Regions from separate parts of the Homo sapiens genome. Here regions 1, 2, 4 and 5 are each linked to region 3. The links come from fine-mapping of genetic effects on plasma protein levels. A gene starts in region 3. Each other region holds a variant in brackets. All regions are shown on one strand. Distances are between the middles of the regions.

Region 1 (5,106 bases), 41 kb after region 3:
ACTAAATTTTCAAGTAGCATTAAAAATTTTCTCTTTCTCCATATATATATCTATATACATATATTTAATACATACACACACAGTCATATTATATGAAATGTGCACCCCTGATAGAAGTATCTAATAAAATTTTGAAAACTTTTTAAATCCATCAGAGTTTTTATTGGGCTTAGATTTAAAGGGAGTCTGAAAACTATTTAGTTTCTGCAGCATGCATAGCAATAGTGGACAACTGCCAGCAAAGGGCTTTATCACAGTATAAATGGGGTTTTAAGTGTTTGTTTCCAGTGCAGGTTCTCGCAGCCCAGGCACTTCCCAGTCTCATTGTTCCTTTGTTCTAGCGGATGTACAAAGGATTGACTGTTTTGTTTTCTGGCTCAGAAAGATTAGATAAAGTCTGCATTTCTGAACTTCACCCTCTAGACACGCAACCTTAAAATTTATTTCTATATCTCATATTTTGTGGATTATATATGTTTGGATTCTACTGATCATGACATTATTTTTTAAAATTTTTATCTGGCTTGATAGTACATGTAGATGATAGTATTGATCCCTTTTGAACTATCACTGGAAGCAGCTGTCCCTCTCATCCTTGTCCTTAAAATGCCACTTCAGCAAAAGTATGTCATCTCAATTGGGTACGACAGCATTGTTCTTGAGTTTCACTGGCTATTAGAATCTCATAGACTCCTCTATATCTTGTTACTTTTCAAAACTGCCTTGGAATATAAGTATTATTATTATACTCCCCAGATAGGAAAGTGGAGGCTTAGACAGGTTAAATAGCTTGCCCAAAGTCTCATGACTTTGTTAGAGCTGAGATTTAAATTTAATTCTGACTCCAAAGCCCATGCTGTCTGCCATTACATTTCACTGCTTCTGTGGCAATATTTTCACCTAATTATAGGAATAATAAAAATAATAACAGCTAACACTGAGTACTTACTACGTGCCAGATACAGTTCTAACTACTTTTTATATAATATTCAATGTAATCTTCATAACAATTCTACTAAAAAGATATTATTATCAGGATTGCATAAATGAGGAAACTGAGGCACAGGGAGGTTAAGGAATTGCCCAAAGCACACAGCTACAAATAGGAGAGCCCAATTCAAGCCCGGGCTGTCAAACCCTAGAACATATGTTCTTCAGGTGAACCAAAGGGCTGTGCTGTGGTGTGAACCATGCAACCTTGTCTTCCAAGCTCACCTGTGTTTCGGGCACTCTGTTAATTTTTGTCATAGTTACTGCTGCCTCAGCTTGCTTGTCAGCTAACATTTATGTTATTATTAATTATTGATGTTATAAATGTGGCATATATAATTTTGCAATATGATGTACTTAGCATAAATCATAGCATAAAACATAGAAACATTAGATTTCATAGGCTCTATTAAGCCTATGGTGTCTATTGGTCAGCCATACATAGTCTTATGAGTTGTCTGTTTATAACTGCCTTTTGAATATAGAGTAAGGCTATCTTATTTCTTTTATATGTAAATTACAAGTGAATATCATCTTAAAACATATAAGAAGGTTATATCTTCTAATAAGGTCTAGAATTCCTGGTGTTATATTGTGAACACAATATAGTCTACCAGGAAGTAGTGAAGTTTCTATAGCCATGCCATTATAATATCTGACCTGACCCTTCAATATTGGTCTCCAATATCTTGATCCCACTTTCTAGACCAAGAACCATGTTGGATTTCTGAAAATTTCTCATAAAGAGGTCTCTCAATAGTTCTACTCTCAGCACTCAGGGTAGGGGCAGCCCCTTATTTCTTAGACTTTACTCCCCACTGTACCAAAAGAATGGCTGCTCACTAAATATCATTGACTTAGTTCCTAATCCTGATATGCTTTTTATTCTATTCAAGTTCAATGGTGGAGATTCAACATAGGCAAAGCAGGACTTCTCAAACTGATCCTTGGCTTTGAGAGTTGAAATAAGGTGAACAGCTGGGTGCAAGATTTGCCCATTCCCACTTACTCTGGGTGCTCTGGCAGCACCAAAGTGCCCCAAAATTGAGATTTTAAAAACCTAGGGATATAGGGGGCCAGATGCGGTGGCTCATGCCTGTAATCCCAGCACCTTGGGAAGCTGAGGCGGGCAGATCACCTGAAGTCAGGAGTTTGAGACCAGCCTGGCCAACATGGTGAAACCCTGTCTCTACTAAAAATACAAAAAAAAATTCACCGGACACAGTGGCGTGTGCCTGTAATCCCAGCTACTCGGGAAACTGAGGCAGAAGAATTGCTTGAACCCGGGAGGCGGAGGTTGCAGTGAGCCGAGATCACGCCACTGCACTCCAGCCTGTGTGACAAGAGCGAGACTCCATCTTAAAAAAAAAAAAAAATCTAGGGATATAGGGAATCCCAGCTACTGGGAGAATCCATTTTGGTAAGCAACCCTATCCTAGGTTTATAATCAGATGTGTATCTTTTGTGGTTGTCTAATATCTAAAAACCACCCAAAGTTACATATACTAGACACCAACAATCTACAACCTAGGAAGAAGTTCAGTGTATATTTCAAATTATTTCTTAATATCTAGATTTTCTGTTGAGATCTTCAGTATTTATCCAGGCATAACCTGGATGTTTGTCAATGTTTGAAAAAGTTGCTAAACTGCAAGCCAAAGAAAATATAACTTTGCTTGGACTTTCAAGATCAGAGCTACCTTAACAACAACAAAAAAAGTTTCAGTAGAAAAAGGAATTCATATGACTAGTAGCTAAATGGGTTTTTTTTTTTTTAAGAAAGTGAAAGGGTAGGTTTGGAAGTGAAGCAAAATGGCAATTTATTTCACAAATAACAGATTTTTGAGAAAAATGAACCTGGACTGCAGTAAAATAAGCAGTTATTTGCAAAAGTCTTCAAGCCATGTTCTTTTTTTTTCTTTTTCTTTCTTTTTTTTTTTTGTGTGTGTGTGTGTATTTGCCTTGCAGATCCTTTACCTCCTGCTAGGTTTGGAGTCAGTAAAGAGAAGACGACTTCAACC[A/G]GCTTGCATGTTTGGTGGACTCCTTCTTCCGGAAAAGTCACCTCATATGAGGTGCAATTATTTGATGAAAATAACCAAAAGATACAGGGGGTTCAAATTCAAGAAAGTACTTCATGGAATGAATACACTTTTTTCAATCTCACTGCTGGTAGTAAATACAATATTGCCATCACAGCTGTTTCTGGAGGAAAACGTTCTTTTTCAGTTTATACCAATGGATCAACAGGTAAGACCTGTTTATTTTATAGCTGAGTAGTTAATAGGATACTTTTCAAGTTATACTTTATTCAAGGAATAGGAGTAAGATTGCTACTCCAGAGCAAAGTTAATTAATTAGCAATTAGTTAAATTTTTAAAAGGAGCTTGTGGGATACAGTGGACAGACTGGACTGAAAATAGGATGCGTGGCTATGCTGGTAACTTGTTGAGTGGTTTTGAAGAAGTCATGGGACTTCTGTGGAATTGGAGTTTTCTCCAACTTGGAATGGATACTCCCTAATGGCCCTTCTAACTCAAATCCAAAGCAACAAGACTTTCTGCCCCATTTTCTAAGTTTGTGCCATAAAACTTATTTTTTAGATGTTTTTATTCTTTGTATACTCTTCTCATAACATCAAGTCATAATGTTTCCTAACTATTCCTATGTTTGAAACAAGTCTTTGTTTCTCCAATGTGGTGAAAAATAAGGCATCTGTGCACCCACATATTATGATATACATGGCACATCACTACCTCCTTCCATAAAGTACATGTCTTTCATGTCATTTGCTCTCCCCTCATTTTCTCTCTTCTTAAATTTTTTTATTATACTTTAAGTTCTGGGATATTTATACTTTAAGTTCTGGGATACATGTGCAGAACATGCAGGTTTGTTACATAGGTATACACGTGCCATGGTGGTTTGCTGCACCCATCAACCCATCATCTACATTAGATATTTTTCCTAATGCTATCCCTTCCTTATCCCCCTCACCCCCCAACAGGTCCCCGTGTGTGATGTTCCCCTCCCTGTGTCCATGTGTTCTCATTGTTCAGCTCCCACTTATGAGTGAGAACATGCAGTGTTTGGTTTTCTGTTCCTGTGTTAGTTTGCTGAAAATGATGGTTTCCAGCTTCATCCATGTCCCTGCAAAGGACATGAACTCGTCCTTTTTTATGGCTGCCTAGTATTCCATGGTGTATATGTGCCACATTTTCCCTCTCTTTTTTAAATCTTCCTCTCCATTTTTCATCTTCTATAGTTCTTTCCTTTCTCTCTTCTACTTACTGCTGTGCAATGTTATATACTTCACTGGCAAAAGCCACCTTAATACCTATTAAGTGGGGGAGGCAGACAAGTAAATTATGATGTAACTTGAGGCTGCAGACTTTGAAAAGAGCACTAATCAAAGTTCCAGTGAAATTTCCAGAATCCTGTTATTTACTAATGCTATTATCAAGTTAAGATGTACAGAGGAACACAAATGAATATGTGACTTCTAATTAAATGTGTCTATGTCTCCTATAAGGGAATTATTAATGACATTTGGACATGCATTTTATCCCACTAGTGCCATCTCCAGTGAAAGATATTGGTATTTCCACAAAAGCCAATTCTCTCCTGATTTCCTGGTCCCATGGTTCTGGGAATGTGGAACGATACCGGCTGATGCTAATGGATAAAGGGATCCTAGTTCATGGCGGTGTTGTGGACAAACATGCTACTTCCTATGCTTTTCACGGGCTGACCCCTGGCTACCTCTACAACCTCACTGTTATGACTGAGGCTGCAGGGCTGCAAAACTACAGGTGGAAACTAGTCAGGACAGGTAAGTTCCCCCTAGCTAGCTGAAGAAGAATAAAGTGAAATCAAGGGAATGTTTAATAAGTCAAGTTTATTATATGAATAACTGTAATATAGGACAAATTGAAATTCTTATAAGGTATAGAAGACCCATATCCACTTTTCTACTCAGAAAAAGAAGGATTCTCTTTTATTCTAAAGTTTAGGCTAGCCCTTGGCAACATTTTGAAGTAGGCAAAGTTAATTACTGATATGGACCTAGCTTCTCTTCTTCTCTTTTTAATACTCTATCTCCTTGCTAAGGATTCCTAC
Region 2 (5,106 bases), 47 kb after region 3:
ATCTCCTTTTTAATCATTTTCCTCTGATGAAGTAGTAACACAACTCATTAACTTTATCATGATTTAATATAAAAATTAAAGTAGTTTTATCACATAAAATTTTGTAATCAATCAATTGATCGATCTATTTACTATGTACTCAATATTATTGAATATTAATATATAAAGGCGATAAGAAATGAGGCAGATGGCAGACCTTTTTGTGCATTCCACTTAAAGAATTTCTGAACTGGAAAGGACCATTGTAGGTCTTTGACCTAGCCTCATTTGCCAATAAGAAACACCATAAGGCTCAGTGAACTAGAAAGAGCTGTCCAGAGTTTCCCAGCTGACTAATGGCCCAGTCTGAACCAGAATCCAGGCTTCTGCCTGCCAAGGTTTTGGCCTTGCCACTAGGCATATAGCCTACCTTTGGTTTTACAACATTACTTTTTGCCTCTTTAAAACCTTTTTTTATTTTTATTTTTTCACCATCTGAAGAGGATAATATTTGCCTCTTGAAGTGCTTGTTTTCTCCAGAGCAAGGAATGTGGCTTGCAGAAATAAAATTACAGGTCAAAATTTGGCCATAGGACTTGTGAGAGATCCTGAGTAAAAGTCTCCTTTCTGTTCTTTCCTGATTAGCCCCCATGGAAGTCTCAAATCTGAAGGTGACAAATGATGGCAGTTTGACCTCTCTAAAAGTCAAATGGCAAAGACCTCCTGGAAATGTGGATTCTTACAATATCACCCTGTCTCACAAAGGGACCATCAAGGAATCCAGAGTATTAGCACCTTGGATTACTGAAACTCACTTTAAAGAGTTAGTCCCCGGTCGACTTTATCAAGTTACTGTCAGCTGTGTCTCTGGTGAACTGTCTGCTCAGAAGATGGCAGTGGGCAGAACATGTGAGTCTTGGGCTCCAGAATGTTCCTTGGTTGCTCAAATCACTCTCTGATCCACCTTAAAATAGGACAAAATAAGTCAGCAGGAAAACTCCTTTCCCAATCTGAGAAGTGGAGCCTATGTAACTGAAGGTGTCTGTAGTATGGCCCATTCTTCTGAGTCACTTAGGCAACTGAGTTTGGATTTCTGAATGATCTGCATGTTGTTTCTGTCTTATGCTTTTTCATGTCACGTCACTTAAGTAGCATAAATGCATTAGCATTGATACCAGTATATAAAACATTTCTGATTCATTCTTACAGTGAGAACCAGTTAGCATTTAACCATGTTTTCCATACATTATTTTATTAATTTATGTCCTCACTTATCTATCCAGTGCCTTATATATGTAAATTACTGTACTATTGTTAAAACGACTAAGACATGCTACTTGCCTTTAAGGCAGGATCCAGCAGACTACCCCATCTGGTGCCAAATCTGGTCTGTGGCCTGATTTTGTTTAGCCCTCAAGCTAAGAGTGGTTTTTACATGTTTAAAGGGTTGTACAAACAAATAAGGAAACAAACAAGAAAAAGATGAGACAGAGACCATATGTGTCCTGCAAAACCTGAAATATTTACTACCTGATCCTTACAGAAAAAATTGTCCAACTCCTGCTTTAGAAAACTTTCATTTTAATCACACAGATGTGGAATACACACATGTACAAAAATAAAAATAGTACATTTTAATAATAGTGACTGTATTGATATTTGCATGTATCAGGCACTGACTAAATAATTTATATCCATTATTTCATTTAGTTCTCACAACAAAACTGTGAGAGATGTCTTGTTATTTATTACCATTATACAGATAATTCAAAGAGGTCAAATAATTTGTCCATAGTCATCCAGCCAGTAAGTGGTAGAGCTAGAATTTAAACCAGGCTATTTGATTCCAGAGTCCATTCTCTCTGCTATTAGAGATCTGAAGTAAGAGATATATGGTCAAAAAGGAAAGATAAAATTTTCTTTCATAAGAGCAGTAAAAACTTGGAGGAAATGGGAGCAGGGTGCGGTGGCTCATGGCTATAATCCCAGCACTTTAGGAGGCTGAGGTGGAGGGTTGCTTGAGCCCAGGAGTTTGAGACCAACCTCAGCAACATAATGAGACCTCGTCTCTACAAAAAAAAAAAAAAA[AT/T]TAATTAGCTGGGCATGGTGACATGTGCCTGTGGTCCTAGCTACTCAGGAGGCTGAGCTGGGAGGATTGCTTGAGCCCTGTGGTTGAGCCATGATTGCATCACTTCACTCCAGCCTAGCAATAGAGTGTGACCCTGTCTCAAAAAAAAAAAAAAAAAAAAACTTGGAGGAAATAGAAATGATCTTTAATAAGGACCTAAAAAATGTAACGTTTGTGACAAAGAGGGAAAAGAGGGAAGAGCTTTTGGGGTGGAGGGGACAAAATAAGCAAAGGCCCAGAGGCAGAAGGGCCCAGGAGACTTGCAGGTCTACAGAACATACAACCGGAAGCCAGCTTTCCAAAGGGTAGGGAAGGAGAGAGGATGGCTTCAGAAAGTAGTCTCAGTTAAGACTGGAAGGATATGGGGTCTGAACTTAAAGAGCCAAAAATGTAAGCAGAGGGCTTGACATTTTATTCTGCAGATTATAGAGAGACCTTGAATGTTTTTAAGCAAAAAAAAAAAAAAAAAAAAGAACTTAATCTTGCAAGAACATTAATCTTTTTAGTTGGAAAAGAAAGAAAGGAATGCCTCATGATCACGACATCCAATATCTCTTACAAAGGATGCCACATATCACTAGATTATTAACACTACAACAGAAGATTACATTACTGATATCACTAAAATGATTTTAGCGGACATTTCTTGTGTGTCAAATGTCTCCGAAATAAAGAACACTCATTTGCAATCCACAGACATCAAGAGGGGATAGAAATGTTTTGAACTGCAGATATTGTGTCTCCTATCTACTGCTGCCCAAGAAAAGTAAATGAGTATCCTTACTTTTGGTCTGTAATATCTCCTTTTTGACATCATTTCACCGTTTAGTTCCAGACAAAGTTGCAAACCTGGAGGCAAACAATAATGGCAGGATGAGGTCTCTTGTAGTGAGCTGGTCGCCCCCTGCTGGAGACTGGGAGCAGTATCGGATCCTACTCTTCAATGATTCTGTGGTGCTGCTCAACATCACTGTGGGAAAGGAAGAAACACAGTATGTCATGGATGACACGGGGCTCGTACCGGGAAGACAGTATGAGGTGGAAGTCATTGTTGAGAGTGGAAATTTGAAGAATTCTGAGCGTTGCCAAGGCAGGACAGGTAGGCAAATATGAAGATGTTAATACCAATGGAAGAGTAATTTGTTCCCTCTCCCAGGTAACCCAGGTAACTGCCGTAACTGCTAATATCATACCCTGGTGTTTTCTGAATTTGAGATATTAAGGACTTTAAGGCTAACATGGGGTTTCTAACACCTAATTTGTCAAATTAGAACATTTAAAATCACTTCCACTAGTAACTCCATTATTTCATGAAAGAAAGCCATTTCAAACACCAAAAGAGTAAGATGCATACATTCTGAAAACAAACACTGACCCTTCCCACAAAAGAAGAACCTTTTGCTAGTGATCAGCATTAGGGAACCATTGCCTTGACCTCATGTTGACTAATGTGGGGATTTCAGGTACCAATGAAGAGTGATTAAAGTGGAGAGGGATATATTTGGATTTTAGGGAAGGGAAGAATAAGGATACTGAAATGAGAAAACAGGCTCAAAGAGGTTATAACTTGCCCAAAGCTTTGCAATATAATCGTGACAGCAAGAATACCAAGACTCATGTTTCAGTATCCTCATACTGTCAAATACTTGTACTCATATTGTCAAATAAGAGAGTTGCACTTCCAAGTTCAACATTTGCTTGATAATCCTTGTAATGTGAAATACTCCATATTTAGAGTGAAATTCAAATACCTTCTTTCTTAGTTCGCCTGATAATAGGGAAATAACTACATGGATTCACTGTTCTTCTTAGAACAATGTCAAAGAAAAGGATCATGACACCCACTTAGCTTGCCAATGTGTCTTGCAGTAATCTCCTCATCTTCCAAATATTAATATCCACTGGATGATGATCAAAGACCTACAGAGCTTAAACTAAGCGACTTTTAGTATTTCACAGGACAAGCATCTCTGTCATCTCCAATATTTTATCACTCACCTCAAATAACTTGGAAATGGAAGATCACAGAACATTAGGGGCTCTCAGCATGTCAGCATAATTCTCAGGAGAACTTTTATTTATTTATTTATTATTTTTACATTTTGAGACAGAGTCTTGCTCTGTCTCCCAGGCCTAGGCTGGAGTGCAGTGGTACAATCTCGGCTCGCTGCAACCCCCACCTCCTAGGTTCAAGCAATTCTTGTGCCTCAGCCTCCCAAGTATCTGGGATTACAGGCGTGTGCCACCAGGCTCAGCTAATTTTTGTTCTTTTAGTAGAGACAGGATTTTACCATGTTGGCCAGGCTGGTCTCAAACTCCTGGCCTCAAGCAGTCCGCCTACCTTGGCCTCCCAAAGTGCTAGGATCACAGGCACAAGCCACGGCGCCAGGCCAAACTTTTGTTTTTCTTTTTCTTTCTTTTTTATTTTTGAGATAGAGTTTCACTCTTGTTGCCCAGGCTGGAGTGCAATGGCATGATCTTGGCTCGCTGCAACCTCTGCCTCCCAGGTTCAAACGATTCTCCTGCCTCAGCCTCCCAAGTAGCTAGGATCACAGGCATGTGCCACCACACCTGGCTAATTTTGCATTTTTAGTAGAGATGGGGTTTCACCATATTGGCCAGGCTGCTCTCAAACTCTTGACCTCAGGTGATCCACCCGCCTCAACCTCCCAAAGTGCTGGGATTACTGGCATGAGGCACTGCACCCGGCCCAAACTTTTCTTAAACTGTGTCTCTGGTTCACCTTATTCAGGTAACTTGAAGTAGGCCTCGATGTAAATAATCAAATTATTTCTCTATACCGAAGAAGGAAGATGGAGAGTTAGGGACTCAATTAGAATGGATTTATAGAAAATTTATGGATGCAAAATTTACAAGAAAATTTTTAATACTTGATTCTTTCATAATTTAAGGCAGCAACACTTTATTCTTTTCTTTTCTTTTCTTTTCTTTTTTTTTTTTTTTTTTGAGACAGAGTCTTGCTCTGTTGCCTAGGCTGG
Region 3 (5,106 bases):
AAGATAAGATCAGTTGCATGATTGCAGAGTTACAGAGAATTTACAAGACTTTAAATAGTTACCGATAGTGATGCTTTTATACAGTGAGCAGGAATAGTAACATATTAATGTCTGGTAACTTTGTCAAGCTAAAAAATCATAATTATAGGACTGGACACCGTCGTTCAAGCCTGTGATTCCATCACTTTGGGAGCCCAAGACAAGAGGATCACTTGAGTCCAGGAGACCAGCCTGGGCAACATAGTGAGGCCTTGTCTCTACAAGAAAAAAAAAATTTAAAAATTGTCCAGGTGTGGTGGTGCCTGTGGTCCCAGCTACACCAGAGGCTGAGGTGGGAGAATTGCTTGATCCCAGGAAGTTGAGGCTGCACTGAGCTGTGATCATGCCACTGCACAACAGCCTAAGCAATTAAGGAGACGTTTTCTCAAAAACTAAAATTAAAAAAGGATCATAATTATGAAGGGGGAAAATGTGATATAGGTATTATGTATATAAAAACATAATGAGAAGCACCGTTATTTCTCATGAAGGCAAGTGCTTTCTATGAATCCATTGACAAGGAGGGTGCTGGGCAGCTAGTGATGATAATGGTGATAACCAAGAGGAAAATGTCACAGCAGAGCCAATTCCCTTTTTCCAACTCATTTAAGGACCCACCCACTATTGTGTTTAGACACCCCGTACACCAAAAGGCTAAGGTTGCTTCTGTACAACATATTCAAATAAACCATTCCAAGGTAGACTTCATTTTACTTGTAGAAAGCAACATTTTGCAGATGAGTTTTGTTTGGTTTGTCTCCGTCAATCAATTTTAAGCCAAATGTATAAACCATTTTAACAAGAGATGAATCATGAGGCACCTGAGAAGTAATACAAATATACCAGCTACAATGAATTTATTTAACCTTCACAGCAGTAGTTACTGTTACTATCCTGCTTTAACAGAGGAAGAAACTAAAGTGCAAGGGGTTTCGAGGAATTTGTCCAAGATGCATACAGCTAAGAATTGGCAGAGGAGGGATTTGAACTCACCTTGGCTGATGCCAAATCCAAGTACTTGATCATTAGGCTGTACCACCTCCCCAGTAATGTTACACAGGTAAAAATTAATCACGTGCCTAGTGTGTGCTGGGAACTGTGTTAAGCCCTTTATATACATTACCATGTTAACTTTGATAGTTGAGACATTTGGACACAGGTAAGAGGGATAACAAAAGAACCACTAGGTCGACTGTTCTATGTGTCTTTGGCATAATACCCTAGCTTGGATGAAATCTCTGTGTTACTTGAAATTGCAAGATTTTAGCAAAATCAGTTATTTTATGATTTCTTCCTTGCAGAGGTGGAATGGTGCAAACCAGTGAGCAGTATGAATTTGTGCACCATGCTCTGTGCCTGTATGAGAGCAGACTTTCAGCAGAGACTGTCCAGTGAGTCATTGAAGACTTGTCAGACCATCAATCTCTTGGGGTGATTAATCAAATTACCCACCCAAGGCTTCTAGAAGGAGCTTCCTGCAATGGAAGGAAGGAGAAGCTCTGAAGCCCATGTATGGCATGGATTGTGGAAGACTGGGCAACATATTTAAGATTTCCAGCTCCTTGTGTATATGAATGCATTTGTAAGCATCCCCCAAATTATTCTGAAGGTTTTTTGATGATGGAGGTATGATAGGTTTATCACACAGCCTAAGGCAGATTTTGTTTTGTCTGTACTGACTCTATCTGCCACACAGAATGTATGTATGTAATATTCAGTAATAAATGTCATCAGGTGATGACTGGATGAGCTGCTGAAGACATTCGTATTATGTGTTAGATGCTTTAATGTTTGCAAAATCTGTCTTGTGAATGGACTGTCAGCTGTTAAACTGTTCCTGTTTTGAAGTGCTATTACCTTTCTCAGTTACCAGAATCTTGCTGCTAAAGTTGCAAGTGATTGATAATGGATTTTTAACAGAGAAGTCTTTGTTTTTGAAAAACAAAAATCAAAAACAGTAACTATTTTATATGGAAATGTGTCTTGATAATATTACCTATTAAATGTGTATTTATAGTCCCTCCTATCAAACAATTACAGAGCACAATGATTGTCATTGGGTATATATGTATTTACTCTCTATTATTGGGCATAAAGGTGGCTTCTGCTCCAGAACTCTATCCACTGTATTTCCACATCGTGAGTCATTTTACTTTAAAAGGGAAAAACAAATTTGTAGCAACTCTGAAGTATCAAGAGTTTTAACTACTTGTCTCTCTTTTGCTAAGAAGGGATTTTTGAATATGCTATCTACCTGGAATCTCTCTCTCAACAAAAGGTATATGCCTTCAGGAATGATATAATCTGTCCCATTTTCGAGGCTCCTTATAAGGACATTTCCATGTATGTCCTTACATTTCTGAAAGCTTTCAATCTTCAAGAGACAAAAAAAATTAAAATAACTACCCTCAGCAAACACTAGCTGTTCTGCTCATATATGAATTTTTAATGCAGCAATGTTGACTTTGTTTCATACTGCCAATAAACTCTTAATACTAAATACTGAGTAAAGCATATTCTTTTTTTTTTTTCTATTTGGAAAGACGCCATCCTCTGTTTGGGGAAGACCAAAGTAGATAATGTGATGGGTTTAATTTTAGTGTCTGCATCTCCCCAGTGAAGATGACGATCTCAAAATGTAATATTGTCATCACTTGGGAGATAATGATCTAGAAGTGCCATCATTATGTGGTTTTCCTCAATAGACTCGCAGCATATCATTATACAAACAGTACATGTTTATGTCTTTATATCACTTGTCATAGACCCTCATCAATTACATGGCTTATGTTTATTCAGCAGAATCACATCACCTGAAGAGATGTAATGTTTCAGGAACATTCAATTATCTGAGATTTCAATTCCTTTCTTTCTTCTTGAGGTTAAGAAGCAGTCACATGCCAAAGGAAAGGTAGGTGAGGTCTTAACGAGATTTACTCTGCTCTTGAAGGCTGGAATATTTTCTACATTAAAAAAAAGAGGTAATCATAATCCCTTCTTTCTAAGGAAACAGACAAAAGGACACTGGTGTAAAACTTCCCCAAACAATTCAATAGGAGGAAGTGCTCGTCACTGACTTTTCCCCCCACCATGAAGGCACATTTCCTTCCTAGTCTTTGCTTCTCTTATCTGGGAGAATTTTTTTTTTCCCCAAGCGAAGCATGAACAGTTGCTAAGTGGAAAATGGAGGCTGAATTTTACATGGTGATTCTTACCTGCTTGATCTTCAGGAACTCAGGTGAGTGGGTCTGCCTCAGTGTCCTGAGGCATTTCTTCAAGATCTAGCCAAGGAGTCCCTGGTCTTTGAAGTGTCTGAAATAAGGTAGAAGGGGCCAGGTCTCCATGGCAGTTTAGCCAAAGACGATGAAAAGCAGGAATAAAAGGAGCCAGCTATGCCCATACTGTTGAGATTTCTCTCCAAAAGAAAATAAATGCTCTCCTCTCATCCTCCAAATGCTTCAGGCAGCCCCTGAAATGATACATTTAGAGCAGAGCGTAAAGAACCCCGAGGAAAAGTTTGTATTATTATATAACAGTCTGTGGCTTTCCCCAAGCCTTTTTCCGACCCGGTTATAGTTTTATTTTCTTTTGTGTTGAAGAAAGAAAATTGAAGGAATATGATTAAAGGGGGTGAGGAAATGTAGTGTGTTTTATTTGGAAGTTGTCATTTGGGAGGGCTGAACATTTTCATGAGCGAGCTGGGCAATTTAAGTAAAACCTCATTGAAAATGGTTTCTGAGCCAGAGTATCTTGCTCTTTAATACTGATGTTTAGCAATTTGATGTTTAATTTTCTTACACTGGCACATGATGATTTTTAGAAAATCTATTCGTATTTGAGAGAAAACTGTAGATATTGTCATAAAATAGAGAAATGCTCCTCTCCACGACTAAAGGAAATTTAGTTTGTGATAATCAATACTTTCATTGGCTGCAATTAGCTAGGAGGTTGTGCTTGGAGAAGTGGGAAAATTTGTTTTATTTTTTGATAAATGTATGCAATTTTAAAAAATTGTTATTCAAACTATGAAATTTGTATATAAATACTGCAATGTGAATTTAAAGACTGGAAAAGGGGGTGCTTTTTTAAGGTAAGGGAGGAAGCTTATATCGAATATGTCAAATGGTTAAAAAGGGAGCTGAGCATTTCATAACTTCAGCATATCTAACTAATTGGGCTAAAATATACTATATACTTTGGATGGTTTTGTTTCTTTCCAAGCTTCCTTTCATTTTCCAATAAGAGGTGTGCTTTTTTCCCCTAAAGCATGTGAAAATTAAAAAAAAAAAAAAGATGGGGAGTTAAGTGTAACATATTGACATTTTATATCGTCAGCTTTGGAATTTTAAATCACATGTGTTAAATATGAGAATGTTCACTTGAAATGATAGAAATAACAAAATATAAGTAAAACTAGTGATTTTATTTAGCTCATTTGTGGGTGGGTTCTTCCGTTTTCTAATGGGCCTCATAATTTGCTACATAGTGCTTTATGAGCTTTTCATCTTCCAGAAGGGTTTCAGATTGTCCATGTCCAGAAACAACAGTGTCTTTTCAAAAATGAGAAAGTGGTCGTGGGCTCATGCAACAGGACCATCCAGAACCAGCAGTGGATGTGGACTGAGGATGAAAAGCTCCTTCATGTTAAATCTGCACTGTGCTTGGCCATCTCCAACTCTTCCCGCGGCCCCTCCCGCTCAGCCATCTTGGACCGCTGTTCCCAGGCACCCCGATGGACCTGCTATGATCAGGAAGGCTTCCTTGAGGTGGAAAATGCCTCTCTCTTTCTCCAGAAACAAGGCTCCAGAGTAGTGGTCAAGAAGGCCAGGAAATACCTCCATAGCTGGATGAAAATAGATGTCAACAAGGAGGGAAAACTGGTCAATGAAAGCCTCTGTTTACAAAAAGGTGAGCTATTCCTTTCAGAGCAAATCCTGAAAGTCTTTCTACTAAATATCTTGGGGGTTTTGTTTGTTTGTTTGTTTGTTTGTTTTACATTTAAGGGAAGTCCACATGCCCCAACATATTTCCTATGGAAGATTCATAAGCTAATGGAGGTGGATGGTG
Region 4 (5,106 bases), 110 kb after region 3:
TCCCAATAACTCCCTTCACATTCTAGCCAGGAAAGTGAGCACACAAGCTTATTCTTGCCTCTGGCCATTCTTCCATTTTGGAATGGCTTTATCTCTCTTCTCCACCTAAGTCCTACCTATCCTTCAAGATTTATTTTCTAATCTTCCCTCCAGGTCTAGTAGCATGTCTTTGTCTATTTGTGCTGCTAAAACAAAATACCACAGACTGGATAATAAATAATAGAAATTTATCTGTCATAGTCTAGAGGCTGGAAGTCCAAAATCAAGGCACTGGCAGCTTCAGTGTCTGTTGAGAGCTTAGTCTCTGCTTCCAAGATGGTGCCTTGTTACTGTGTCCTCCAGAGCAGACAAAGGCTGTGTCCTCACATAGAGGGAGGGATGGAAGGGCAAAAGAACCTAGCTAGTTCCCTCCAACTGTTTCACAAGGCACCAGTCCCGTTCATGAGGGCAGAGCCCTCATGACCTAATCACCTCCTCCACCTCTTAATACTGTTGCATTGAAGATTAAGTTTCAACATGAATTTTTGGAGGGGACACAAACATTCAAACCACAGCACAGCAATTGCCACCTGTAGCACCTAATTTTTTCTCTTAAATTTGTTCTCTTGATTTCTCTTTGCTTCAGTCTGTCCAGAAAATCAACCTAACAAGTGAAATCTCTCTCTCTCTGGCGAGCCTGGTATCTAGCAAATTAATGTTTGCAGCAACATTTTGATAGCCCTAACTGAATGGCACTAATAAATATGGAGCAGGGAACTGCAGCAGTAAGAGAAATGCCAAGTGTACTCATCTCCTCCCTGTCAGCCCAGCACCCTAGGAGCCCTGCTTTCCTATGTCCTTGGAACCTTGACACTTTTAATAGGAAGGTGAGGCACTCACCTCAGAGCTTTCTGCTTTTTGAAAAATGGCAGGCATTTTTGTCCAGGACCACTGGAGAACTGTTATCTTATAAATGTGTGTATCAAAAATCCCCAGATGACACAACCATTTTGGGGAGGAATTTGGCAATCCCTAGTGCAGCTGAAGGTGTTCATGCCCATGACCAACCCAAGAGTTCTGCTTCTAGGTGTTGACCCCTGAGAAATCTCCACATATATTCATGTTCTTTGCAACACATGTTTTAATAGAGAAAAATTTAAAATGATCTCACTGCCACTGGATTAGCAGTGGTTTATGAAGAGAATTAATTAAAAGAAATTAGATCAGCTGGGTGTGGTATATCCTGCCTCTAATCCCAGCACTTTGGAGGCCAAAGTGGAAGGATCACTTGAGGCCAGGAGTTCAAGACCAAGCTGGGCAACTATTAGGGAGACCTTATCTCTACAAGTCTTTTTTTTTAATTAGCTGGGAGTAGTTACACATGCCTGTGGTCCCAGCTACTCAGGAGGCTGAGGTGAGAGGACTGCTTGAACCTGGGAGGTCGAGGCTGCAGTGAGCTATGCTTGTGCCACTGCACTCCAGCCTGGGCAACAGAGCAAGACCCTGTGAAGGACGGAAAGAGGGAGGGAGGAAGGAAGGAGAGAGAAAGAAAGAAGGAAGGAAAGAAGAAACGAGAAGATCTATATGTAGCAATATAGATAAATCTGAAAACATAATATTGAGTAGGAAAGTTGACAAAAAGATACCTAAAGCACATATGTTACCATTTCAGTAGATTTTTCAAACATAAATGTTTATAGATTTACCTGTATGTAGGAAAAGTATTAAAAACATGCGTGGAAATGATACACAGTAAGTGCAGAGCAGTACTTATCCCTGGTAGAGTGGAGGAGGGACAGGAAGGGAGTGGAAAGAGATAGAAGGCTGTGGGGGGGTGGGGTTGGGGGACTCTAGGTTAAACTTATTTGAGAGAAAGAAATATTCCTATCTTCTCCCATAACTGGGAAGGGAAAAAAAAGATTGTGCCAGAGTCTCTAGATGCAATCTTGAAAGGCAAATTTAATAAAAAGGCTCAATCTTCCTTTGCCATCTCTTCTAGTGCTGGTGTGGGTAGGACTGGAACCTTTATTGCATTGGACCGAATCCTCCAGCAGTTAGACTCCAAAGACTCTGTGGACATTTATG[G/C]AGCAGTGCACGACCTAAGACTTCACAGGGTTCACATGGTCCAGACTGAGGTAAGAGTTATAGACTGAAAGTTACAGGCCACCCTCCTCCCCACTGTATTCCCACAAAAAAATATCCAGGACCTTAATCTGACAAGGGGAAATAACTATGACACATTAGGAAGAGAAAAAAAGAACTGCATGTAGATATTTTCTAAGACTTGTTATTTTAAAACAAATCTCACTGGTCTTGAAGGTGACCATCTTGGGGATCATTTTAAGATAGGCTGGCAGATGAGCATAAGAACTTCACTTAGGAAAGAAGAAGATCCCAATCTCTTCTCTCCCCCAGCCCCACTCCCTCCACCTACACCCCCATTTCAGGAGACCCCAAGGGAGTGTATGTAGATGGTAAAGACCACGTGCTTCCATTTGTGCAGCACTTTGACATTTGCAGGGCATTTTTGAACATGTTATCTCATTAAATTTTCACAATAACCAAGCGAGACATATTATATTCTACTTCCAGACTAGAAAATGAAGGTCCAAAAGCTTAAGGGCTTTGCACAAAGCCCACAGCCATGAAGTGGCTGAGGTGGCTTGGCCACTATTCTAGAGAAACCTGGGCCCTTGATTGTGCTATAAGCGTACTAGCCTCAGGGTCAGATCTCTTCCTCAATAGAGACCAAGCATTCACTCCTCTGCATCAATGCCTTCTAAGGCTCAAATTCTCTTACCCTCGTGTTTCACAAGTTTTTCTCCAAGTAACTAAGCAAAATCCTCTGTATTAAAAAAAAAAATCCATGGTTGGAAAAGTAAAAAGTTCTACATGCTTCTGTGTCCCCTCTTAGAGCCACAGTACCCAAGGACAATGCACAGACAGCAATGCTCCATAAAAAGAGAGCTTCCTGCAGCCAAGGCCCCCTTTGAGCTTTATTGAACCCACTAATCCCAAAACCACCTTGACCCCTGAATTCTTTTCTTGTGCAGCACATATTAATATCCTGCATTCAAGCCAGTAACAATTGAACCAGAGAAATGAAAATAAAAATTAAAAATATTCTGCAGAACTCACATTTGACAAAACAATGGCATCATTGCCTCCTGCAGGCAGGAACCTCTGCCACCACTATTGTCCTGGGCTGGGAGTACTTTCATTATAACAATGATTCTACCATATTTTGAATGTTTTATTATGAAATTGTTTTGAAAAAATATACAAAACATGGCTGGGTACAGTGGCTCATGCCTGTAATCCTGGTGCTTTGGGAGGCCTGGAGAGGGGCAGATCACTTGAGGCCAGGAGTTTGACACCAGCCTAGGCCACATAGCAAGAGCCCATCTCCACAAAAAATTTTTAAAAAGAAAATACACAAAACTAGGAAAAATAGTATAGTGAGTTTCCATGTACCCAAACCCCTGCTTCTACAATTATCAGTATTCTGTGTTCTTTTCCCATCTGTATCCCACATTTAATGTTCCCCTACCCCATGACCTTATCCCACTGAAATATTTTAAAGCAAATCCCACTTATCATATTATCTCATCCTTAAATACACATATACTTATATACACATATGTATGTGTACACGTGTGTATGTATATATGTATGTGTGTAATACATGTCATATTGCATATATGTGTACATGTGTATATGTGCATGTGTATATGTATACACCTATATGTGTACATTTGTATGCATATGTGATATTACATATATTGCATATATACATATGTACGGGTATATAAGTGTGTACATGTGAACATGTATACATATATATGTATATTTGAGATACTCTTTAAAACTATGACCACAATGTCATTATCACATCTATGTCTTTCTTAACCGTTATTCCTAAATCTCACCTAATATCCAGTCAGTATTTAAATATCCCTAATTATCTCAAAAAATTACTTTTTATAAAAAACTATATTTGGTTTTCATTAGAATCCAGAGTTTACATATTTCATTTGGTTGAAGTGTCTCTGAAATCTTTCTATAATCTATAATCCTCCCTCCCATTTGTTTTCCATGATATTTATTTGTTAAAGAAGCCAGCTGATTTCTTCGGCAGATTTTCCCACATTCTAGATGTGGCTGATTGCTTTTTCATGGTGGTAATATATTCCTCTACTCCCCATGGATTTTTCCTCTACTCCCCATGGATTTTGTCAGCTGGTGGTTAGATCTAGAGGCCTGATTAAACTCAATGCTTCATGGGTGGTGCTGAGGGCTTTCTGTTGCATGACATCAGAAGGCAGATCACCATGTCTGTCTCTCTTTCAGCGCTGAGGAAACTGACAGTGAGTTCAGGCAGTGTCAGCCTGAACCCTTCATTATCCCCATCAACCCTTCACTTAATGGTTTTAGCAGCCACTGATGACCTCTGCCTAGCGCTGTTATTTCATCAAAGGTTGCAGAATTATATAACCCTGTATCATAATTATTAATTATTATCCTTCTTATTAATTATTATCCTTCAGCTTTCTCCACAAGACTATGCATTCCTAGAGGGTGGGAGCCTGTTTTCCTCCTCTTCTATATCCTCAATATTTTTTAATCTTTTAAATGAATGAACAAATATCCTACAATTATGTTGCTAAAAAGTCAGCATTAATATTTTGTTAGTTTATTGTCACTTTCACAAACTCAAACCCTAATTAATTTGTAACTTGGGAAAGAGGAGGTTATCGTATTGTAAATAGTCTCAAACTGTGTGTATTTGTGTGCTCTAGTAATTGTCAAAGGATTCTTGGGCCATGTATCACCTCCATACACCTGCCCCAAACTCATAATGCATTTTGGCAACTAGGAGGGACTCTACTGTCAATATCACTGGCTGACTTTCAGAGCAGAGGTAACACAATGTTCCTCTTCCTCCTTCTCCTTAGAAATAACTCCATCTTTTCCCTGTTCTGTTCTCCTTTTCCTCCTGCCTCACTGAGGACACTGTGGCATAGTTCCTCAGCTTGCCTTCTTAATGTTTGAGTTCCCCAAGGTTTTGTCCTCAAGGCACCACCCTTTCTCTCAGTCTTCATTCTTTGTGATATTCTCCATTCCTGT
Region 5 (5,106 bases), 32 kb after region 3:
AACAGTGGTCTTGCAAACAGGTAAAGGATGACAGGTGCAATTGGATGGCCAAGCCACACGGGGTTGGGCCCTGCCTTTTCAAGCTGGTGTTTCATTTGAGTTCCAGGGATACAAAAAATGAAGGTAAAAATACCTGTGAAGATAAATATTGACAGAAATGTCTGGTTTCCTCGGATCTAGCCAGAAGCAGCTTGGTGGACTTTCAGAGACTCCCTTAGTGCTGAAAACAGCCAACTAGCTACTGAAAGGGTCGGGGTGGGGTGCAGGGCGGTCAGCAAAGAGAAACTTTGGGCTGCGGTGGGAATTTTTTAAAGTGATGTGGTTTACGCTTCCATTGCATTAAATTGTCAAACCCTGGAATAATTTTAAGTAAACGTTTTTAGAATAAATAATAGAAGTACAATATTAGGGGTATGCCTTTCCTCAACTTAGTTTTATTTTTAGAACTGTACATAAAATCTGCAGGAATAGAATGGAGCCATTCATCAGGGAAAATTAGAAAAGTCTCTTGAAATGAGGACATGAAAATTGTTTTGTATCTCTTGAGTAATAACCCAAACAGCATAGTATCAGAGAACGTCCTTTGATTACTTTACAGCAATTATTTTCCTTACACTTTTGCTGAATCCCTCCATGTGGATATGTTCAGAGTTTGCCTTTCTTGCCTCAGTTTTCTTATCTGTAAAATGGGAGTGTTAGACTTAGGTCATTCAAGTCCAAGTTCTTACCAAGTGCTCAACACTTAGGTATGGGCTGTCATGTACATTACCTCATTTAATCCTCAGAGCTACCCTCAGACATGCTCTAAATTCTTTAACAATTTTCAGGTTTTCTGACTTCATTAGTCTTCATTATCTCTATTTGTTGCAACAGTGTATCCTTACCTTCATCCAGAGATTCAAATTTATGTTAAAATTTTAAAAGTCAAATTTAGAAATGTGTTGCCCTTAGTATTCTTTCACATTTCAACCTGAAACAGGATCATTTCTTTTGCTACAGTTCTTCAAAGAGGTGTGAGAACTTTCAGCTCTAAAGGCAGGTGCAGCAGTTTCAGAGAATTTAACTGGGCTCATGTAGTAAGTCAACTAGATATTATCTTTTTTTTTCAAAGAAAAAAATCAAAATGCCCAATTACATCACTTAACTTACTTCAGATGAAACTTTTAGATGATATCTGAGATTTGCAGCATCTTAAGTTGAAAAGAGAAATCGCTTGTTAAGAATCTGGTGGTTTCTCTGACTGGGCGCAGTGGCTCACACCTGTAATCGCAGCACTTTGGGAGGCTGAGGCAGGTGGATCATGAGGTCAGGAGTTCAAGACCACCTTGGTCAACATGGCAAAACCTCGTCTCTACTAAAAATAAAACAAATAAATAAATAAAAAATTCGCCTGGTGTGGTGGCGGGCGCCTGTAATCCCAGCTACTTGGGAGGCTGAGGCAGAGAATTGCTTGAGCCCAGGAGGCAGAGAAGCCAGATTGTGCCACTGCACTCCAGCCTGGGCAACAGAGGAGACTCTGTCTCAAAAAAAAAAAAAAAAAGAAAAGGAAAATGAATCTGGTGGTTTCTAATATGGAATCAGAGAGCCTGAAATAGACCACATAATTAGAACATTTTACAAAAGTTGAAAGGCTGGGTTTTTAGTCCAAATGTTGTTGGTTTCTTAATATTACAGGATAGTTCTTATAAATACTCATATTGCTAATACTGTGAAATACATAACATAGAACTTACAGATGTGTTAATTGTGTTTAGAAAGGCATCTGGCCAACTAGTGTATGTGTTCAGTGGAGCAGAGCAATTTGTAAAAGCAGGCTGAGCTTTCAGAAGTTTGTTGGAGAAAAGATTAAGACCTTTAAGAAGCCAGAATATGGTTGTTTAAACCAGAGGATTTACTTTTTGGAAAAACAGTAATGGAAAAGGACTTACTGTGGGTGTAATTAGTTAGAATAGGCTTTGAGTTTAATTATGCAAGTAGGTATTCAAGTCCAGAGGCATTTCTGAAATGTAAGAAATACTTGCATTTTATTGACCATGTTGAGTGAAACAAGACTTCATCAGCATCCACAATGTGCTAGCATTCAGGGTTCTCACCATTTTTCTTAAAGAGACACACTTTACTTGTCTACAAATATTATGAGCTGCATGATAAATGTGAAGCATGAAAGTTGCAGGTGGTATTTGCATAATGATAAATTTCCCACATGTATTTGTATGATGGTTGTTTAGATTTAAATTACTTTTTTAAATAAGATATTTTAAAAATTGTTTCAGGGAGGAATTTTTTAGTCGGTTGTTATTTATTTGTCAGTAGTTCTTTCTACATTTTAAGGACATATGTGAATTGTTCACTTAGTTAATACAAAGTACTAGTATTCCCCTATGTTAATTGCTGAGCTATAGAGATGAGATGCATAAATCATATTTTACTGTTATTAAAGCAATGCCAACTAGTATAATATTCAAACTCAGACAAACTTCAAACAAAAAAGTAATTGAAAATATCTGTGCTTTCTTTATTCTATTATGC[C/T]TGTCTTATCAGTCTAAAACAAAATAGAATGAGAGCAAGACATGATTTGGATAGAAATATAGTTGTTGCTTAGATGATCTCTATATCATTCCAAATGTGACTGGCCTGATTATTTTTCCTGATAAACTGTCTAAAATAGCTCATTATTTTCATGTCATATAGACACGACCTTAAGGATAAAAAAATTGAATTAAATGGGCAATATTTCAGCAATAGTCATTTTCCATTCCAGATTTAAAATCAGAATCGAAGAACATAATGGATTTAAACCCAGTTCAGTGCACATGTATCAAACATAATACTGTTGGGAACTATGCCAGGTAGTGATTAGTAAGCTTATAAAGATGACTAACAAAAAGTGGTTCCTGACCTTGTTGTCTCGTGCAGAGGTGAGAGACGGTTATGATGAAAGTGGCAACAGAGCTTTATCTCATCTTTTCTGGATGAGGACTTTACTCTGCCTCATGTATGCCATGCTTTCATAACCATAGAGGACAAGATATTTGGCAATTCTCAGGTTTACTTGGTCATTAAACGGTCAACGCAACAAGAATATCCTTTGAAAGCCAAAGTATTTAGTGTGAACTCACCAGAAATCAGACAATGAACATACCAGATATGGAATAAGTTGGCATTTTTTTTTCACTTCTTGTAGAGCTCTTCTTAAACTTGGCACTTTTGAAGACTGTACTCAGAGTCTAGAGCAGAGGTTGCAAACTGGTAGCCTCTAGAGATAGCTAGGTGTCTAAATAATAACTATGTTGTGTTTGGCTCATGTAGTGTTTGTGAAAACATCCAGATCATTTCACCAGCATTAAAAATCAAAAATTCACATTAAAACCCAAATGTATGGATTCTCTTAAAATTTTGGAAGATTTGGCAAAACTGTGCCTAAAACTCTCTAGAGCTGACTTGTGTCTTCTCCTTTTAGATACCAACTCACTGGAATACCACTTCATTCATTTCCTTACCTGAATGCATTCTAAAGACATTTGAATTTGTGACTTCTACTTTGTGGTTTTCATTTGAAAATTTTAGGGAGCATTTATTTGTCTGGCAATAAGAAGTAGGTTTTCAGTACTTAAATGGCATCTAATACATGGTAGGTGTTCCGTAAATACTGATTAAATGGATGGATAGATGGATGAATGGAAAGATGGATGAATGGTGGATCTGGGCACGGATGATGAGTAGAAGAGATAGATAGACCAATATATAGATACAGATAAGCATGTAGATGTGAATGAATGAAATTAATATTTTAGTGAGAGAATGTACATATACTAAAAATATATTCTATTCTCATTGGATTATGGGTAGATTACAGAGCCCAGGGAAGAGTTGTAGTGGTAGATAACTTTACCTGTAGAAATAATATTTTAAAAGCATTTTCCCTCTTGTTAAGTCAGTTTCAGCTACTTATTAGTCAGCCTAGAAAAATAAAAAACAAAACCTCTCAAATGATTTTAATTATTTTAATATGGCTAACTTGTCTTTAATAAAAAACATTTTAGGAACGTTAATTGTTGAATCACCATATCAGCTATTATTTCCACTTCTTATTGTATTGGTTTACTAGGAGTGTCTTAACAAAATACCCCTGACTCTAGGTGGCTTAAACAACAGAAATTTATTTTCTCACAATCCTGGAGGCTAGAAGTCCAAGGCGAAGGTGTCTGCAGGTTTAGTTTCTTCTGAGGCCTCTCCTTGGCCTGCAAATGGCACCTTTTTGCATGTCCTCATATAGTGGTACCTCTGTTTCTGTTGTCTGTCTGTTAATGTCTTCTCATAAGAACACCAGTCATATTGGCTTAGGGCCCGCTCTAATGGCCCCATTTTAACTTAATCACCTCTTTAAAGGCCGTATCTCCACATACTGAGGTACTGGGGTTTAGGGTTTCAACATATAAATTTGGTGGGGACACAATTCATCCCCTAATACTTCTATAGTTTTAAACATAAGCCATCATTTCTTAATATCTGTAGGTTACCTGCATCGAAATATCTTGCAGAGCTGGTTATGAAAACATATTCTTGGTTTCTACCCCACATGGAAAGAATTAGAATTTAGAAGGAATAGAGCTGAGGGAATCTGCATTTTAAACAAATATCAGAGTGAATCGATGCACACAAGTTTAAGAACTATTGACATAATTTTTCTATTATTTGTTGGCATTAAGATTTTGATACAATTCTTCTTAATGCATGATCAAATCTATAATGCCTAGGAGTATTTATTATCTTTCCCAGGAAGAGAAGAGTACTCTAGTATTTGTTTTGTGCTTCTTTAAAATTTTATTTTATTTTTTTAATTTTTTTCAGACAGGATCTTGCTCTGTTACCCAGGCTGGAGTGCAGTGGCACAATCACAGCTCACTGCAGCCTTGACCTCCCAGGCTCAGGCAATTCTCCTGCCTCAGCCTCCTGAGTGGCTGGGACTACAGGTACCCAATACCACACCCAGCTAGTTTTTTAAATTATTTGTAGAGATGGGGTCTCCCTATGTTGCTCAGGCTGGTTTTGAGCCTCTGTGGCCAGCCTGTTTTGTGCTTTTATAGCATATAAAAGACTACCACA

Direction of the effects. Alleles are on the strand shown, and positions count from the first base shown. The strength of an association depends on the size of the effect and on how common the allele is.
In carriers of allele G in region 1, the plasma level of the protein whose gene starts at base 3,189 in region 3 tends to be lower than with A alone (strong association).
With allele AT in place of T in region 2, the plasma level of the protein whose gene starts at base 3,189 in region 3 is lower (moderate association).
As copies of C replace G in region 4, the plasma level of the protein whose gene starts at base 3,189 in region 3 goes up (weak association).
As copies of T replace C in region 5, the plasma level of the protein whose gene starts at base 3,189 in region 3 goes up (moderate association).

The links. PIP is the posterior inclusion probability: the model's chance that the variant is causal. Protein levels are from antibody-based Olink assays in UK Biobank. Linkage for the fine-mapping came from a reference panel and not from the study's own genotypes, which makes the PIPs less certain.
Region 1: its variant is fine-mapped to the plasma level of the PTPRB protein (UK Biobank, PIP above 0.99). The variant lies in the coding sequence of PTPRB. If it changes the protein, the assay may bind it differently, which can mimic a change of level.
Region 2: its variant is fine-mapped to the plasma level of the PTPRB protein (UK Biobank, PIP above 0.99).
Region 4: its variant is fine-mapped to the plasma level of the PTPRB protein (UK Biobank, PIP above 0.99). The variant lies in the coding sequence of PTPRB. If it changes the protein, the assay may bind it differently, which can mimic a change of level.
Region 5: its variant is fine-mapped to the plasma level of the PTPRB protein (UK Biobank, PIP above 0.99).

The regions. Positions count from the first base shown.
Region 1 is chr12:70,594,180-70,599,285 of GRCh38, reverse strand. PTPRB (protein tyrosine phosphatase receptor type B) reads left to right here. Exons shown (of 34, transcript NM_001109754.4): 5 at 2,959-3,237; 6 at 4,562-4,819. Among named protein-coding and RNA genes, the nearest start is that of PTPRB, 41 kb to the left of the region's middle. The variant A/G (reference allele first, on the strand shown) is at 3,012.
Region 2 is chr12:70,588,064-70,593,169 of GRCh38, reverse strand. It overlaps PTPRB (protein tyrosine phosphatase receptor type B), which reads left to right. Exons shown (of 34, transcript NM_001109754.4): 7 at 625-888; 8 at 2,937-3,206. Among named protein-coding and RNA genes, the nearest start is that of PTPRB, 47 kb to the left of the region's middle. The variant AT/T (reference allele first, on the strand shown) is at 2,068.
Region 3 is chr12:70,635,512-70,640,617 of GRCh38, reverse strand. PTPRB (protein tyrosine phosphatase receptor type B) reads left to right here and starts at 3,189. Exons shown (of 34, transcript NM_001109754.4): 1 at 3,189-3,277; 2 at 4,552-4,947. The coding sequence starts at 3,223. It overlaps PTPRR (protein tyrosine phosphatase receptor type R), which reads left to right. Exons shown (of 14, transcript NM_002849.4): 14 at 1,341-2,539. The coding sequence ends at 1,434.
Region 4 is chr12:70,529,043-70,534,148 of GRCh38, reverse strand. It overlaps PTPRB (protein tyrosine phosphatase receptor type B), which reads left to right. Exons shown (of 34, transcript NM_001109754.4): 32 at 1,979-2,114. All of the region lies in intron 6 of PTPRB-AS1 (PTPRB antisense RNA 1), which reads right to left. Among named protein-coding and RNA genes, the nearest start is that of PTPRB-AS1, 64 kb to the right of the region's middle. The variant G/C (reference allele first, on the strand shown) is at 2,065.
Region 5 is chr12:70,603,983-70,609,088 of GRCh38, reverse strand. PTPRB (protein tyrosine phosphatase receptor type B) reads left to right here. Exons shown (of 34, transcript NM_001109754.4): 4 at 1-20. Among named protein-coding and RNA genes, the nearest start is that of PTPRB, 31 kb to the left of the region's middle. The variant C/T (reference allele first, on the strand shown) is at 2,530.